Regions from separate parts of the Homo sapiens genome. Here region 2 is reported to be linked to region 1. Evidence: microRNA targets listed by miRTarBase, many of them from high-throughput screens and not tested one by one. Region 1 holds a microRNA gene; the other region holds the end of a gene's coding sequence.

Evidence for each region. Region 1 holds the annotated microRNA hsa-miR-2276-3p (UCUGCAAGUGUCAGAGGCGAGG, at 1,164-1,185, shown strand). A microRNA usually pairs through its seed, bases 2 to 8, with sites in the 3' UTR of a target mRNA and lowers its output. Matches are read on the target gene's strand: a 7mer-m8 pairs with bases 2 to 8, a 7mer-A1 pairs with bases 2 to 7 and ends in A, and an 8mer does both.
Region 2: miRTarBase lists APOL1 as a target of hsa-miR-2276-3p. Seed matches in the 3' UTR shown: 7mer-m8 at 2,075-2,081.

What each region holds. Positions count from the first base shown.
Region 1 is chr13:24,161,306-24,164,707 of GRCh38, forward strand. MIR2276 (microRNA 2276) reads left to right here and starts at 1,111; the gene lies at 1,111-1,199. The region is part of intron 1 of SPATA13 (spermatogenesis associated 13); the gene reads left to right.
Region 2 is chr22:36,265,520-36,268,921 of GRCh38, reverse strand. APOL1 (apolipoprotein L1) reads right to left here. Exons shown (of 6, transcript NM_003661.4): 6 at 1,397-3,402. The coding sequence ends at 2,889. Among named protein-coding and RNA genes, the nearest start is that of APOL1, 14 kb to the right of the region's middle.

The DNA of each region.
Region 1 (3,402 bases):
GGCAGAGTCTGGGGAGCCTGGCGCGGCGGAGCCCTGTAACGCTCTGCTCCATCGGGTGGCGTGGCTGGTGCCTCCGGGGACCCGGAGCGATGCGGTTGGAGAGCTTAGTTTAGAAAGCAAGTTTCTCTTGGTACCAGCGGAGTCTCGTCCCAGGGGAAAGATTTTGGGACCCGGTGCCCATCGTCTGTGGACTGCAGGGAATGCATTGGCGGAGTTGGTTTGGTCCCATTCTGTGCAGGAGGTGGGGGAATTGGTACTCCAGCCCCAGGCAGGTAGAAGCCCGCGCTGCTGCCAGCGTCAGGGGGAGCTCGGGTGACTTGGGCTGGGCCACCCATCTGACTGCAAGGTTACAGAGCTTGAGCAAATTTCCCCTCCCTCCAAGTGCAGGAAAACCAAACCAAAGCAAGCAAACAAAACCCTGTGGGTCATTTGCTTCCCAGCATTGCATAGGGATGTGGATAAATAGAATAATACTGTGAATTTATTCAGCTCTTGTTCCCATGGCTTCCCATAGCCTTATATTATGCACCTCCCCCTGCCAGCATTTTCTCTGTCCCCACCTTCGGTTTTTGCTGCCTCGTGTTTTCTTCTCTGTGAACCTTTCCTGGTCACCCAGCGATTTGCTCTCCTTTATTCCCCTTGCTAACAGGCGGAGAAATCTCACTCCTTTTCTTTTTCCACCTTTCCCAACAAATTCTCCTTTTTTCCTAATGTCCCCCTCCCCCGTCTTGCAAACTTCCTCACTGCATTATTCTCGGGGTGCCTGTCATGCACCCTCCCTGTTCTCTGCCCTCCTCCCGCACTTTAGAGTTTCATGTGGCTTTGTCTTATTATCCCATATCCTAATTCTCATCTACCTCCCTTGGCCCCCACGTTTGCCATCTGCCTCCACCCAGTTCTCCCATCTCCTTCCTTATTTGTGCTCCCGTGCATATGCAGGTTTCTTCCTTGTTTCCCCATGTTTCTCCCACAGGTGCTTTCTTCCCTTTGCCCTACTTCTCCCTGGCAGGCGCTCTGCCCAGCCACAGCCTGCCCCGCCTGGAGGGCACACCTTGCCTCAGTGCCTTCTGCTGCGGTTTTCCATGCTCCATCAGCATCCCTGGGTTCCTTGTGTTCTTCCAGTCCGCCCTCTGTCACCTTGCAGACGGCTTTCTCTCCGAATGTCTGCAAGTGTCAGAGGCGAGGAGTGGCAGCTGCATCTCTGCAGGAGGACTCTGGATTTCAGGACCCTCCCTTCTGCCACTGCTTCTGACTGATTGTTTTCTTATTGAAGTCGTATCCTCTACATAGTTCTAGAATTAATGTCAATATTGATGTTAGGTAGCATCTACCAAACTCTGGGTGTGTGCCAAGCACTGTTCTGAGGGCTTAACGTGCATCAGTACTCATTTAAAATCCTCCACACATCCCTATAATGTAGGATCTACTACTGTCCCCATTTGACAGATGAGAAAAGGAAGGCTCAGAGGAGGTAACCGGCATGGCTTCTTGCCACTGCCTAGCAGTGGAGGCCCTCTTCTCACCAGACAGTGGAGCTTCCCTGCTGGGTGACCTCTTGAACTCAGGCATGCCTGGAGTTTAGCTTTGGAAAGGAGGTTGTTATATGACATGTTTTATTTAGTCTGCAATGTACACCAGTGGAGGACATGAATTCTATACCTGTAGGACAGTGCATGGAGAAAAACCTAATGCCGGCTGTCCCTCAGAAAGCCTGGGGCCAGTGCCTGGGCTGTCACCTCATCCATGCTATCAGTCTACTTTCCCTCTTAGCCACAGGAAGCCCTGAAGAAAGTGGCATAAAAATGACCTGGCTGGGCACAGTGGCTCATGCCTGTAATCCCAGCACTTTGGGAGGCCGAGGTAGGAGGATTGCTTGAGCCCAGGAGTTCAAGACCAGCTTAGGCAGCATAGCAAGACCCCATCTCTAAAAAATAAAAATAAGAAATCAGCTGGTTGTGATGGCGCACTCACCTGTAGTCCAAGGTGCTCAGGAGGCTGAGGTGAGAGGATCTCTTGAGCCTGGGAGGTTGAGACTGCAGTGAGCTATGATTTTGCCACTACACTGCAGCCTGGGTGACAGAACGAGAGACTCTGTCTCTAAAAAAATTAAGTTAAATTAAAAAAGAAGACTACTGCCAGCTGTCTCCTCCCGTGCATTGAGAGTTCCGTTTCACTTTAGCTGGACAGATCTTTATGGTCTCTGTTAGCTGTGTGACTGTATGAGTCTTATTTATATCCATTTCATTATGTAATCTTAAAGCCTTGTCCAAACATTTCTTTTTTAGTCTTTATCTTCCTAAGAGTTGGAGGCAAGTAGTATTTCTACTTTACAGATACTGAAGCAGAGCATGCACCTTGATAGCTGAAAGGGACTTTATATTCTACAGATGAGGAAACCGTGGTCCAGGGAAATAAAATGGCATATTCAAGGGAAAGCAGCAGGACAAAGTTGGCTCTAAGGCTTCTCTGGTTCAGGGCTCAATGCCTGGCCCTATAGCTTGGTAGGTTGACCTCTCTGTTTGCTGCTGGAAGCAACAAAGTTTCTTTCCCCTTCCTTTCCCTTGAGCTAAGAGGCATTGGAAGGTTTCACTTAGAAGGGGAACTCATCAGTGCTTTCCTTTCTTTTTTGTCTGAAAACTAAACATTTAAGAAATGTTTGCCTATGAGACATGTAATAGCATAAATGGGATCATAACATCACAGTGGTATAAATTCAAATGTTTTAGAAAGAACTATCATTGTTATTTCTAAAACACCAGGAATGAACACCAAATGTACATGGTTTTCTTGAGGGAAACTATATAATACATGGCAATTTGAAAATCAGTACCTGGAATGTTTAATTGTATTTTACATTTGTGGAGAGAAATGCATTGGTACAAAGTGCTTACCTGATTTTCCTCATCTTTGCATCACAAATGAAAGAGCAGTAAAGGGGGAGCATAGAGTAGGTTGCTGTTTTTCTGTTGGCCTCTGCTGTACCCACATCCTTCTCTGGACTCCCACTGAGCCCCCTTGCTCCTGCCTCTGCTCCCTCCATGTTTAATGCCTCTTTTGGCTCCCCAGGGAACCTGCAGGGTATTGTTGAATTGTGATGCTCACCTCCTCCATACCAGCCTGTCTTGACAGAATGAAACCCTGATGCCCTGAGGCAGGCATCCTATGTGATGGCTTCATCACTCCCTCCTAGGATGAGATGGGTGATCAGGTACCATCCTGGGGAGAAGGGAGGAAGCATTTGCGTGAGGTATCCTCTGTGTTCTGTGGTTTAGGTGAGGATGGTTATAACTGAGGAGCAAGTCAAGTTTCATTGCTCCCTAAATGAGATGGAGGTTCAGGGAAGCTGTCGTGGCCAGAGCCCCATAGTAAGTGGCAAGACTGAGACTGGACCCCGGGCTGCCT
Region 2 (3,402 bases), not on the chromosome of region 1:
CCTAGAATCACTTCCTAGAAACCCTCTGCACCAGAACGTTGCCTCTGGCTCTTCCTTCACAGGACCCCAGGCCGCAACAGGCTACTTTAGGCAGCATCATGGCCTACATCTTTGTGCTAAGAGTAATGGGAAGCCATTGAATGGTCAGAAGTGGGTGCTCGATCAAATCTATGTTCTTAGGTGGGCACGGTGGCTCGTGTCTGTAATTGCAGCCCATTGGAATGCCAAGGCGAACAGATCACCTGAACTCAGGAGTTTGAGACCAGCCTGGGCAATGTGGCACACACGGATGGTCCCAGCTACTCAGGGGGTCAAGGTGGAAGGGTAGTTTGAGGCCGGGAGGTCCAAGATGCAGTGAGCCATGCTCATGCCACGGGACGCCAGCCTCACAACAGAGTGAGACCAAACAAACAAACAAAAAACCCCCAAAAACCCAAAACATGATCTTGTTAAAGCCCAACCTGGCGCAGTGTGGAGAATGATCCAGGACATGGGCAGGGACGGGCAGTTGCACATGGAAGACCATTCTGGAAGTTCTTGCAGGAGTCTGGGCAAAACGTGAGGACAGACTGGATGGGGGTGTTTGCTGTCTGGATGTCCCTCTTTGCCCCTCTATTACTCGATAATCTTCTCCCAATCTGCACACAGGCCCCTCTGACACTAGTCAGCCTCGAGCGTCCCATGTCAATCCCGGGCTCTGACTCGCAGATGGAAACCACACCTGTGCTCAGCCAGAGCCAGACATGTACAAGCTTTCTGTGGGTGCCCCAGTGGGGTTGGTGGGGTTTTGAGGTCTCAGGGAAATGACCAGCTGGGAAAGTGAGAGTCCAGTGAGCAAGCAGGAGGGGCCATGGAAGCCTCGTTTCCCGAGACCCTGGAAGAAGGATCATGAGGAAGGGAAGTCAGGCACCCAGAGCCCAGGGGAGCCTCCATCGGCACCACAAAGGCACAGCCATCAGTCAGTGCTGATTGGACCCAAGTCTCCAGGACACAAGATGGGGAGAGCTGGGTGGACCTGAGACATCACCTTGTCCAGGTACCCTTCTACAGCTGATGAGGAAACTGAGGCTCAGAGAGGCGAGGTCTCGTGACCACAAGCGGGGTTGAACTCCTGGACACACCTCAAGGTTCCTTGACCTGTTCCTGGCATCTCCTTTCATTTTTCCTTTCTTCCCAAATTAACCTCTTTCCAACACAGCACTTCAAGTTCCCCTGGAACTTCATCGGTCCATCGGTGTCCCCTGGTCTGGAAGAGCACCGACCACTTGCCAAGGCCCCCACCACTCTGCTGCCATCACAACCACCATCACCACCATTACGAGAAAAACTTGAGACTGATGGCCCCCAAAGCTTGGAAAGAGCTGAGAGACCAAAGAATGACTCGAACAAGTCCAGCTTGATGAGTAGGTGAGTTTATTGGGACTTACACACAGGTCAATCCTGGGCGGCGACAAGACAGCTCTAGAGATCTGAGCTTCCTCCCAATGCTAAACTGCTTTCATGCTAATTTTCTGACTGTTTACTTACCGGGTAAGAGCGATGGGACTGTTTTCATTGGTTGGTTCTCACATACTCTCTGGGAAGTTTGGGTTCTCAGGGACACCTGCTCCTCAGCTGGGGACCATGGCCATGGCCCACCACCTGCCCTTCAGTGTTCAAGCAGGGGACATGCACCCTTTAGTAACCTGGAGGGGACCCATCACATGACAACCACCCCAATGACCATCATCAGGAAGCCGCTGCCTGACTGAGATATGCCCCCAGGAGGACAAGGGAGAGTGGATGCTGGAAAGACAGGGCAGGGGACCATCACCAGGGAAAGACTTCATTCTTCGGAGGACATTGAACCTGGGGCTGGGTCTGTAGTGGAGCCGCTGTTTCTTCTCCTGTATCCAACTGTTCTAACTCTTGGGCTTTCTCCATTTTCAGCTCTTTCTTTTCCTGGCCTTCTCATTGCTGGTTCCTTCAAGCCTCCTCTCTATTCTTCCGTCAATATATTCTTTTTTTTTTTTTTTTTGAGATGGAGTCTCGCTCTGTCACCCAGGCTGGAGTGCAGTGGCGATATCTCGGCTCACTGCAAGCTCCACCTCCCAGGTTCACGCCATTCTCCTGCCTCAGCCGCCCAGTTAGCTGGAACTACAGGCGCCCGCCACCATGCCCGGCTAATTTTTTGTATTTTTAGTAGAGACGGGGTTTCACTGTGTTAGCCAGGATGGTCTCGATCTCCTGACCTCGTGATCCGCCCGCCTTGGCCTCCCAAAGTGCTCGGATTACAGGCATGAGCCACTACACCCGGCCCCCCAATATATTCTTTAGTCTAAAGTAAACTGCTTCTTCCCATTCCCCACACTCTCCAGTTCCCATTTTTCCCTTATTGCAGGCTCCAATGTTCCTGCCTTCTCCTTGCTGCACTGCCATCTGCATTAACCCCTCCCCTGCTGTGCTCAGCTATGGAAATGCCAAAGTCCCTAACACTCAGTTCCATAAACTTTACCTCACCCTCTTTATCCCCCTAATAAAATGTTTGCATTTGGGTCAAAAGCGATGGCTCACGCCTGTAATCCCAGCACTTTGGGAGGCCAAGGTGGGCAGATCAAGAGGTCAGGAGATCGAGACCATCCTGGCCAACATGGTGAAACCCCATCTCTATTAAAAATACAAAAATTAGCTGGGCATGGTGGTAGGCGCCTGTAGTCCCAGCTACTTGGGAGGCCAAGGCAGGAGAATCGCTTGAACACGGGAGGCAGAGCTTGCAGTGAGCTGAGATCGCACCATTGCACTCCAACTTGGCGACAGAGCAAGACTCTGTCTCAGAAAAAAAAAAAAGTTTGCATTTTGTCCTGGCCCCTGCCAGGCATATCTCTCCTGGTGGCTGCCCTGCCCTGTGGTCACAGTTCTTGGTCCGCCTGCAGAATCTTATAATTATTGTTGAGAATGTTTAGCTTCTCCTCCAGCTCCTGAGCCACCTTCTTCAGCTCCTCAGCTGTCTCTGACTTTGCCCCCTCATGTAAGTGCTTTGATTCGTACACGAGGTAGACTACATCCAGCACAAGAAAGAAGCTTACAGGGGCCACATCCGTGAGCTTGACTCCTCTGCTCATTTCCAGGATGCTGGGTTCATTAACCCTCTCCACCTGTTCACCGCTTTCAGCTGAGATTGGCTCAGTGACCCGGGGGCGTGAGGCTGAGGCATGCGGTACTGACTGAAGATTGGCTCTGGCTCGTCTGAGGGCACGGATGTCCTTCCCAATGCCTCGTGTGAGTTGGTAAGTATTGCCAGCTAAGGAAAGAAAGTTGGATATGTTCTCACCCAAAAACTCCCTCACCTCCTTCAATTTGTCAAGGCTTTTGATGACCAGGTCGTGGGCTTGGGCTTGTGTCCACCACTTCTTTCCGTAGTCC